3 linked regions of the Homo sapiens genome follow. The protein of the gene in region 3 purifies or fractionates together with the protein of the main gene of each other region. This does not show direct contact. Each region holds a gene or a part of one and is shown on either strand. Other genes may lie near its edges.

Evidence for each region.
Region 1: the proteins of TNFRSF8 (region 3) and DPY19L1 purify together in Homo sapiens (affinity purification with mass spectrometry; 2 studies listed by BioGRID and IntAct, with this or other methods). This does not show direct contact.
Region 2: the proteins of TNFRSF8 (region 3) and NAA20 purify together in Homo sapiens (affinity purification with mass spectrometry; 2 studies listed by BioGRID and IntAct, with this or other methods). This does not show direct contact.

What each region holds. Positions count from the first base shown.
Region 1 is NC_000007.14:35,030,982-35,034,636, forward strand, and holds part of DPY19L1 (protein C-mannosyl-transferase DPY19L1), read right to left. Parts: intron 1-3,655. UniProt on the Homo sapiens protein: C-mannosyltransferase that mediates the C-mannosylation tryptophan residues on target proteins.
Region 2 is NC_000020.11:20,023,842-20,027,496, reverse strand, and holds part of NAA20 (N-alpha-acetyltransferase 20), read right to left. Parts: intron 1,821-3,655; coding exon 1,730-1,820; intron 714-1,729; coding exon 578-713; intron 1-577. UniProt on the Homo sapiens protein: Catalytic subunit of the NatB complex which catalyzes acetylation of the N-terminal methionine residues of peptides beginning with Met-Asp, Met-Glu, Met-Asn and Met-Gln. Proteins with cell cycle functions are overrepresented in the pool of NatB substrates.
Region 3 is NC_000001.11:12,136,249-12,139,903, reverse strand, and holds part of TNFRSF8 (tumor necrosis factor receptor superfamily member 8 isoform 1 precursor), read right to left. Parts: intron 1,676-3,655; coding exon 1,468-1,675; intron 1-1,467. UniProt on the Homo sapiens protein: Receptor for TNFSF8/CD30L. May play a role in the regulation of cellular growth and transformation of activated lymphoblasts. Regulates gene expression through activation of NF-kappa-B.

The sequences.
Region 1 (3,655 bases), on a different chromosome or scaffold from region 3:
GCCTCTTCCCCTGGAAGAGTAATGTCTCAATGGTTTGGCTGAAGTACAAGCTGATGGCAAAAGAACTAGCAAAACAGGAATTTAGGATTAAACATATGAATAATAAAGCCTAAAGCTACCCCATTTGGAACTATGTACACAGGTTTATGGTCTCTATGACAATGTAGATTTAGTCAGTCCTCCATATCTGTCAGTTCCACATCTGCAGATTCAACCAACCTCAGATTGAAAATAGTAGGCGGAAAAAAAATCCATCTGTACTGAACACATGCAGATATTATTCCCTAAACAATACAGTGTAACAAATATATAAGTAACATTTACATTCTATTAGGTATTCTAAGTAATCTAGGCATGATTTAAAGTATCCAGGAGTATGTGTGTATGTTATAGGCTAATACTATGCCATTTTATACTAGGGACTTGAGAATCTGCAGATTTTGATATCGGAGGGAGGTCCTTGAACCAATCCCTCGGGGTTACTAAGTAACAACTTGCCTCATTAGCATGAACTTTAAGAAACATTAATATACCTAACACACTCATTAAGAGAAATTAATACAGCCTAATAGGATAAGTATTTACAATGCATAACAGCCACGGTTCAAATATTAGCAACATCCAAATACCCATATGTACATAAATAAAACTGTATGTGCTTTCAGTATTGATGCCATATTATTGGCCAAAAATCAATCACAAATAGATAACATATGCTTATATTTACATAAACTAAACTTATCAAATTTGTTATTTGGATGCTAATGAGCATCACATATTCAGAAAACTTCTAACTGTATCTGTTAATAATAAAATATGTTTAGGTGATTATAAACATTCTTTAGAGTTAGCCAGAAGTCTATCTTAGAAAGAAAAAAAAATGGCTGTAAACATTAAAGAAATTCTTTAAAATCCCAAATTCCCATTGGCATAACCTCTATGAATTAACATAAACACACTCTCACAGCTGGTGCTCAGTTGGGTCTATGTGTCTGTTTGAAAGCAAGCACACCAAGATGGCCTGTGTCCCTGTGCCTCATGCTTCCTTAGCTTTTCTTGGCCCTTATGCCACCCCTAATATGCTCTTTCTACTTGTTGTTCCTGTATCTCTAAGTATGACCCTCTTTTCCTTCTTTTTCCTGGGGAAGGAAGAAACAAGAAAACTAACATTTATTGAGCACAAAATGTTAGGGTTTCTCAGAATTGGACTCTAGGGTTTCATTTCTTTTGCTGTACTGTCCCCTTAGAGGAGATGAAATATAGCATACTAGTTAAGAGCATGAACTTAGGAAACACATTGCCTGGGTCAAATCCTGGCCCTTCTACATTCTAGGGGTGACCTTGGACAAGTTACTTAATATCTTTGTGCCTCAGATTCCCCCCACGTGGTAAAACAAGCACAGTAATCATAGTGTCATGGTGAGGACTGAGTAAACAGTTAAATGAGTTCATCTAAAGCACTTCCAACAAAGCCTGGCAAAGAGTAAGCCCCCTATCAGTATAAGATGCTATTGTTCCCCTAAGTATGGAAATAGAAGTTCAATGGGAATACAAATTCAATTACCATTAATGTGAAAACCACCTATTTGCTGATGACTCCCTGTAGTACATCTCCACTCAGACCTTTTCTCTCATATCCCACCACTGATTGGCATTTCTACTTGGACATCTCACAAATGTCCCAAAAGTAACATGTCCAAGACGAAATTCTTGACCTTTTCCTTCAAACCCATTCCCTCATCCATACCCCTAGTCTTCACTATCTTGGTGAATGCCAGCATTATTTACCCAATTAGAGAAGCCAAAAATGTACAAAGTATTCATAACTCCTTCCTTTCCCTCAATCCAAGCCCAATTCATAAGTCCTATCATTTTCACCTCCAAAATACAACTCAAATTGACCAATTTCTCTCCATCTCCACAGCCACCGCCTTCATCTAGGCCAGCAACCCTCTTGCTAGGTCCGTGAACAGCCTCCTCATGGGTCTCTCCACTTTTGTCCTTGTAGTGCAACCACCCATTTTCCCAAGAGCAGATTTCTCAAAGTAAAAATTTAATCATGTCACTCTCCTCCTGTTGAGCATTCCTCAATGGCTTCCTGTTGCACTGAGAATAAAACCCAAGCTCCTTTTCAAGATCTGGCCCATGCCCATCTCACTTTGATGCACCTCCACCCTCTCTTCTTTCAACATGCTAAGCTCTGTCATACTCTTCTGTTCGGCTGACATCTTTTCTTTCTATCGGTCTCAGCTTCAAGGCTACCTCCCCAGAGACCTTTCCTGACCCTACTTAAAGAGGGTATTTCCTTTTTTTTCTATCTCAGCTTGTTTCTTTCCTGCAGTGCACTCATTCACAATGTGCAATTATTTTCATTTATTTACCATCCCCCCTTCCAGAATGTAAGTTCCATGAAGGTAGGGGTGACAGAGTCTCATTCTACATTTTACCCCACCAACTAGCATCTGGCTTAGTAGACGCTCAATGATATGGTATGACTGACTATGAATGAACTTACTGTGCTATTTTACATGTATTATCTCATTTATTTTTTACCATAATCAGACAAAGCATTTATTATTCCCATTTTAAGGGTGAGAAATATTAAAGGAGTGTAGAACAGCTCGAATGCAGAAACAGGATTCAAATGCAGGCCAGTGTTGATATGGCTATGCTGCTTCTACCACACCACATTGCTCCCCCCATCTAGTCCCCAACAGCTAGATTCAACTCTCTGCCTCCACCCAGTTTCTGACCACTTCTGCCTCTAAGAAGTCGCAAGTGTTTCCTACCATATGGGCTTCAAGGTTCTCGTAAGCTGTAGAGAATAAAAGCTGTGGTCCCAAATGACACAATTTTGCCTCCCAGGGTACAATGGCCAAAATCTGGAGACATTTTCGTTGTCACTACTGGGGAGATACCAGTGGCATCTAGTAGGTGGAGGCCAAGGATGCTGCTAAAATCCTGCAGTGCACAGGAAAGCCCCCTCAACAAAAAAATTATCCCACCCAAAATGCCACAATGCTGAGGTTGCAAAGCCTTGTCAATAAGGAACCAGGTTATAGCAGGTGTACCCTTGCCATTGACCACAGGAACCAGGTGGGCAATGGGAATGAGTCAAACAGGATTAATGCAAAGGGGGGAAAAGGTAGTTTTTATCATCCACTTTTCCCATACTCAGGTTCTTGTTTTATTGTTGTGTATATAGTATCTCATGTTAGTCTTTCACCACAGACATGCTTTGTTTGCATGTCTAATGGGTGTATCTTTTACTACCACAATTGTTTCCATGACGGAGCACTGGCATACATAAATAGACCAACAGACATATAGACTTATGCATATATGTACTGAGTTGCATTGTGGAAGTGTGAACAGGTTTAATATAAAATGTATTGTTACAATGTCAGCTGTGGTCAAAAAAGTTTGGGAAACATTGTCAAGGTTCTTACTATGTCACAGCCACCTCTGCATGAGGAAGCTATCAGGTTGAAACTTCTAAAAATAAACATGTCAAGAACCCCTCTTTACAAATATTAGCACTAAATAAGTAGCAAATAATGCCCCACAATAAGAAAAACATATATTTATGAAAAGAGACTTTTCAACAATGCTTAACCCTGCCCAACAGTGGAAAGACCATGTTGGAAGGCAGTGA
Region 2 (3,655 bases), on a different chromosome or scaffold from region 3:
TATGAAACAGGAATGCAAGTGGTTCTGCCAAGTCATTTAATGTCCAACAGGTGCACACCTCTCATTGGTAGCTAGCCACAGTTATTTAAGAATGAAATGAAAATATTTCTTCTTTCAATTTATTTTTTTTCTAAATGGCTATTAGCTGTTAGGCTATAAATACTTATTAAACAGTTAGAATATAACTGCTTAAGACTGAACTATTTTCTTTTGGCCGAGGAGCACTGCTAAAAATTTATTCAGATGCCAAAGCAATGGTAACAGATTTTAGGAATGTGTGCCACTGTGGCAGGAACACTAAGAGAAACCTCGAGAGCTAGCCTTTGGAACTGAATTGCACCAATTCCTCAGCTTATAGGCCTATAGCGGGTCACTACAACACTTTGCCTTAATTTCCTCAATGGCAAAATAGAAACAATATCACTTTGACTATGTGATAGAATTGTTCTAAGGACTACTGGAGATGGAAGATGAAATTCCTGTGAACTGTAAAGCATGACAGTTATTCAGCCTGAAGGGGAAGAAAATGGTTAGGGGTCCACAAATCACTAAGTGTATTTGAAAAACTGAATCTCACCTTTCTGAAATCTCCTCTAGTAACTCCATAAGTTTAGCAGCCAAACCAAGGCGTCGAAATTCTGGGGCAACAGACAGAGCTGTGACGTGCCCGTGCCATTCTTCCCTAGCTACTGAGCCTTCTGCTTTACCCATAACTGCCAACAACAACAAAAATCACATTCAGTAACTAGACATTGATTTACACATAAATATAGAATTACTGTTCAGTATGTTTTTATTACAAAGGAAACTAATAAAGAAGTTTTTAAGTACCACCTGAGGTCATCCAGCTAACAGTTAGTGCTTTTATTTGAAATTCACTTGTAAATGTAACACTATCTGTTACATTTAGAATAGTTCTAAAATCAGAATTAGAACAAAAAAGAACGATATACTTAAAACACAACTAATTTTGAAAAAAAAAAAACCAGAGTATGTATTTTTTCAAATATCTGCATTTCATATGGGTGTGGGTATATGTGGGTACATGTGGATGTACACATATAGTTCAGAGCTAAAGGTTCTGTTAGTAATGCTAATTCAATGAGGATGCTATGATGCCTGCATTATGTACTAAATAAACCATGTAGAAATTTAACAAAAGTATAGAATGAAAGATTTTTTTTTTTTTTTTGAGACAGAGTCTCACTGTGTCACCCAGGCTGGAGTGCAGTGGCATGATCTCAGCCCACTGCAAGTTCTGCCTCCGGGGTTCAAGTGATTCTCCCGCCTCAGCTTCCTGAGTAGCTGGGATTATAGGCACGCGATACCACGCCCAGCTAATTTTTTGTATTTTTAGTAGAGGCAGGCTTTCACCATTTGGCCAGGCCGATCTTGAACTCCTGACCTCAAAGGATCTGCCTGCCTTGGCCTTCCAAAGTGTTGGGATTACAGGCGTGAGCCACTGTACCTGGCCTTAGAATGAAAGATTTTTTTTTTTTTTAGAATGAAAGATTTAAGAAGACTAAGACCATGTCTGTCTGGTTCACTGCCGTTATCGCCTGGGCCTAGCACAGTGCCCAAAACAGAGATCAGTAAGTTCTTGAATTGTTGAAGAGGAAATAAAATTACAAGCATCATTATATTCCAATTCTGCAGTCTAAAGCAATCAGTTGAAATCTATATTAAAATCTTTACCTACTCCACAAAATACTAGTGGTATTATACTTACTATAACCCATTAATTCTCCACCAGGTGCCTCTGCAACAATGAAATACTCTGGCCAGTGGGCGAGGTATTGTAGGTAGAAAGGAATCCCATACTAGAGTCCTGTTAAGGAGTGTGAAAAGTAATGGACAGTAAAAAGTTCTTCATTAAGGGATATTGTAAAAAAAGTTTCCTTTAAAAAGTATACTGTTACTTTATCCCCAGCTCTGTATGAGTCCTATAATCATACATACCATTACATGAAATATTTAGGTTATCACTGATTTTTAACAAAATTGCCTGGACATATAGCCTCAAGTGTGGAATGGTGATAGCACTGTCTAATAGAAAGCAGAGAATCAGGACCCCAAAGTTCTACAGTCTACTTCCCTACTGACCATACCATATCTAAGTCTCTCCATTTATCACCTGATATTGTTTGTTTGCGGTCTGCCTCCTCTTAGTCTATGAATATCATGTTCCCTCTGTCCCTGGTGCCTGGTACACAGTAGATGCTTAATACACTGATGCTTACATAATTGCACTGAAAAATTAATGGGTAGTTCCTACTTTGACTTCAGCTATGAGACTGTGAAAATAACTTTACAACCTAAGTCCTTCCAGAGCCAACTTAATTACCCAGTTTTTCCTCTCCACTGATTCAAATCCTGCATTTCTAGTAATGCAGATAAAAGCTGACTTAAGGAATCAACTATGTTAACAGTAAATGCCTGAATAATTTGCTCATGACTTCACTCTTCAACCTTGGGATATCCTTACTGACATGTAATCATTCCTACATTTCTCTTCTTCTTTTTACTCTGTACTTTAATGGATGAAAATATATTTCTTGTTAGTATAAACTTTCTGATGCAATTTATCAGAGGACACCATCAATCACACATAAATATATTTTTTAAGTTCCTGGAAAACCTGTTCCGTGCGAAATTCTTCAAAATCTCCTCTGAAGGACCATCATTATTTTGAATACCCCTCAAATACAACCCTTAACATGGCAGGACAGCCAGTCTTCCTGCCAGCCAGCCACTGACATATACCACAACCATCTCTTCTGTGGCTAACAGAGGAGTCCCAGACACCCCTCCCTCCCATCGACCTCTAGGACCTAACAGGTTACTTTCAAATATAGGCTCACCTGGATTATGGGACTTTCACTGCAAATTTTAAATGTCACTGGAAGCACACCATATAAACGGATTTGCATCCTAAAATCCTTCCTTCCTATATAGTGAAACTTTTGTCATTCAAAATTCTTCAAAAATCTTAAAAGTGGTGATATCATTAGTCGTAATTTAAAAAATCCAGATGAACCTGCAGAGATTTTTTGCTTTTCCCATTCAGTTTTGTTTCTGATATGTAGTCCTGTTGCTGCCTGCACCTGTAAGTTAATTTTTACTGCTGTATAGTATTTCTTTATGTGAAGAGACACCTTAAATAGCCTGTATCCTGACAATGGACACCTGGGTCATTTCCTGTTTCTCAAAAAAATGTTTGAAATCCTTCTTCAGTACAGCTTAATTTACTTAACCATCTCCTGATTGTTGTGTGTGAATCTTATTCCAAATGCTTAGTAACTCTCCTGCAATAAATAATGTTTGTAATGGTATAACTCAGGGGTTAGCAAACTTTTTCTGTAAAAGGCCAAATAGTTAACATCCTAGGCTTTGTGGGCCATACAGTCCCTGCTGAACTACTCAAACTGCAAAAGCCACAGAAAAAAATATAAATTAATCAGCGTGGTGTCCCAATAACATTTTATTTACAAAAACAGGCAGTGGGCCAGATTTGGCCTATGGGCCTTATTTTGTCAACCACTGACAAACTGCCTCTATTTCTTCTTATTTTCAGCTTTCAGGAAATGGAATTACTATTTCCAAAGTGCCTTCTGGAAAGATAATAGCAATTTATATTGTCACTAGCAATTTATGA
Region 3 (3,655 bases):
GTACTTTGGGAGGCCAAGGCAGGCAGATCACCTTGAGGCCAGGAGTTCCAGACCAGCCTGGCCAACAGAGTGAAACCCCATCTCTACTAAAAATACAAAAAATTAGCCAGGCATGATGACACTCGCCCATAATCCCAGCTACTCAGGAGGCTGAAAAAATAAAAAGAGAAGATGACTGCCCTGAAGAGTTCTGGCCACCACTGTCTGCCATAGAAATGCACAGGACAATTACAAATGACTCTTCAGTATTATCCCAGTGCCAGTTACCCTTCCAGAAGCGACAGAGGTGGGGTCCACCAAGGCCCTGCCCACAGGGAGCACAAAGCCAGGTGGAGGTGGAGGAAGGCTATAAACACGCAGTCACACCACTGGGTGCTAGGACACCGGGTAGGGGAGGCCTGGGTTCTTAGGGAGCATAGCATGGTGGAGAGGGCACAGAAGGCTTCCTGGAGGAAGGGGCAAATAAGCAGGGTCCCCAGGATATCCAGAATTAACTGGATTCAAGGCAGTGGAGTTGGCTATTTCAGGCGAGGGGGTAGCTCCCATTGAGAAGCTCAGAAGTGACAGAGGGGTCTGTAAATTTGGGAGACTGCCATGAGGGGGAGGGACAGACTGTGGGGTCAGAAGGTAGGTGAGTCTGGTCGGGGAGCTACAACTTGCTGTCAGCCTTGAGTGCTGGAATAAGAATGCTGGAATTCATCCCATAGGGAATGGGAAGCTGCTGGAGGCTTCTCGGCAGGAGTGCAATAGGGTCAGGTATACATTTTGGGGAAAATGCCGTACCAAGGTGATGAGAAGCAAGAGAGGAGGCAGGGAGGCCCACAGGAGGCCAAAGCCAATGTCTGTCCAGGCTGGCAGCAGCTGCCGTTGGGAAGCTCTGAACATCTGGGCCCCATCTGTCCTCCTGCTTCTGCAGAGGGTGGGTGGTAACGTGGACAAACCACGGGCTTCAAGGCCCAGCAGATGCGGGACGAGTTCCAGCTGTGCCACTTAGTAGCCATGCAATGGGGAAAATCACTTCACCCTCTGAGCCACGGTCTCCCCAACTGTAAAATGGGGAGAAAGACACCATCCAAAGAAGGTGGTGAGACCATCAGAGATGAAGAGATGGCACCTACACAGTGCCCGGAATGCGCCAGACAAGTGGCAGGTCCTGTGACCACTGGCACGTCTTCCTCCTGTCCCCTCGGGTGCTCGGTGTTGGGGGCTGGGGTGGTGTTCGTTTTTTATGAGTAACAGCAGGCATCTCATGCACACTGGCTCATGAATCCGCACAATGGCCTACGAGGTAAGTACCCTCGCTGTCCCTACTTACAGAAACTTCAATTGGGGTGAAGAATCTATGCCTCTCCTTTCCTGGGCCTTTCAACTCCAGGGTCTCCAGGTCCCTTCCAGGGCCCAGGGCCCCGTATTCATCTCCCATCTGCCCCTGGGCTGCAGGGGACCTCCCAAAACAGGCTGACTCACCAATCTTGTTATTGGTGTGCTCCGTGGACACCCGGGGCTCAGGAAGGTCCCTGGGGGACGAGGGGCCCCCGGCCGGGCTGGCATCCTGCAGCGGCAGGCTCTCCAGGTAGGCTGCCCCCACGCTGTGGCAGGTCTCCATCAGTGGCTGGCTCATTAACCCTCGCTCTTCCGCGACGGGTTCTGTCACCGACGCACCACTCCTCAGCTGCTGTGGGACGGGAATGGGTGCTGCTGCAGGGTACCCCCAACCTCCCCACCAGTCTCTGAACTGGGAGGCCCCTTTTTTTTTTCATCTCTACAGACCCCAGTGAGTCCCCCTTTCTGCTTTAAAAGCTGCCATGAGCTGCCCCGGGCTTCTCAGCTTTCTGGGTGAAGTCTGTTGCTTTTAATTTGTACTAAATAGTAGGGGTAACAGTCAGCGACTCACAGGGTGCTCGCCACGTCCGTTGGCCCTGTCCTAAAGTCCTTGACATATGTTAATCCTCACAACCACTGTATGAGGTGGGTAACAGCCCACTCCCCATTTTACAGATGAGGAAACTGAGGCACAGAGGAGTCGAGTAATTGGCCCAGGGTTATACCATCAATAAGTATCTGAGCTAGGATTTGAACCCTGGCATCTGGTCCATAACCCACACTCATAAGCACCCAAGTCTGTAAGTACCAGCTCCAGGTCCCCCACCTCCTGGAGCAGCCCCTCCAGCTCCCCAGCCCCGACATCCTGGAAAGTAGTCTTTTATGATCACACTCAAGCATTCTAAAAACAGACTACTGTTAGTTCAAGTGACAAGCCCGGTGACCTCTATACTATATAATCTAAATTCATGTATATTATTAATAAATATTTTCTAAATGCTAAAAAAAAAACAAAAAAAAAACAAAAAAAAACAAAAAAACAGCTATGTCATGAGGAAAGTGTCAGTTTAGTTTTTGATTTTTACAGGTAAGGGCAAAGAAGTGGCCTCATGAAATGTCCTGATGCCTTCAAAATGGAGTGAGTGTGAGTAATTCAGAGGAGGCAGGGATGCCCGTGCTGACGCAATGATTCTCAAGGCACAGAGGGCGTATCTTTTAGATTGGTGCAAAAGTAATCACGTCTTTGCCATTATTATTATTATTATTTTTTACTTTTTAAATGGTTTTATTTTATGTACAAATAATGAACATATGTTATACCCATAAATTCTACTTTCCCAAAACAGGAGCTTTTTAAAACAAAACCACATAATAACTTTTAAAAGGCGCTGAGATTCCTCAGCTTCCAGATCACTGCTGAGCTAGAAAAATAAAGTTTGTTCTACCAGGAACCACAGCTTAGAACTGAGTATTCTTCACTCGCTAAGAGTCATCACCACTCCCTAATCTCAAGTACCCAGGGACACAAACACTGCGGAAGGCGGCAGGGCCCTCTGCCTAGGAAAACCAGAGACCTTTGTTCACATGTTTATCTGCTGACCTTCCCTCCACTATTGTCCTATGACCCTGCCAAATCCCCCTCTCTGAGAAACACCCAAGAATGATCAATAAATACTAAAAAAATTAAAAAAAAAAAAAAAAAAAAAAAAAGAACTGAGTATTTTTCAAAGTGGAAATTCTAGAGTGTGGTGTCACTCCAGACAAAGATTATTCTGTTCTCAACCCCAACATCCACAACTACCTATCAGAAGGGTTAAACCAGGTTTGCCATTACTTTTAATGGCAAATGGCACCAACCTTAATACATACTCTTGAATACTCTTTCATAATAATATGAAGGCTAAAAGACTGCCTTTTTTTTTTTTTTTTTTCAGATGGAGTCTCACTCTGTTACCCGGGCTGGGAGAGCAGTGGTGCAATCTCGGCTCCCTGCAACCTCTGTCCCCCAGGCTCAAGCGATTCTCCTGCCTCAGCCTCCTGAGTAGCTGGGACTACAGGCGTGTGCCACTACACCTGGATACTTTTTGTAGTTTTAGTAGAGACGGGGTTTCACTATGTTGGCAAGGCTGGTCTCGAACTCCTGACCTCAGGTGATCCGCCTGCCTCAGCCTCCCAAAATGCTGGGATTTTAAGTGTGAGCCATCATATCCGGCCAAAAGACTGCATTTTAAAACAAGTTACTATTAATGCATTGGCCTATGCAGCAAAAACATATTTGATTACCTTACAAATTGTTGAATACCTCTTTCATGAAATTTCTCAGTATTGTAAC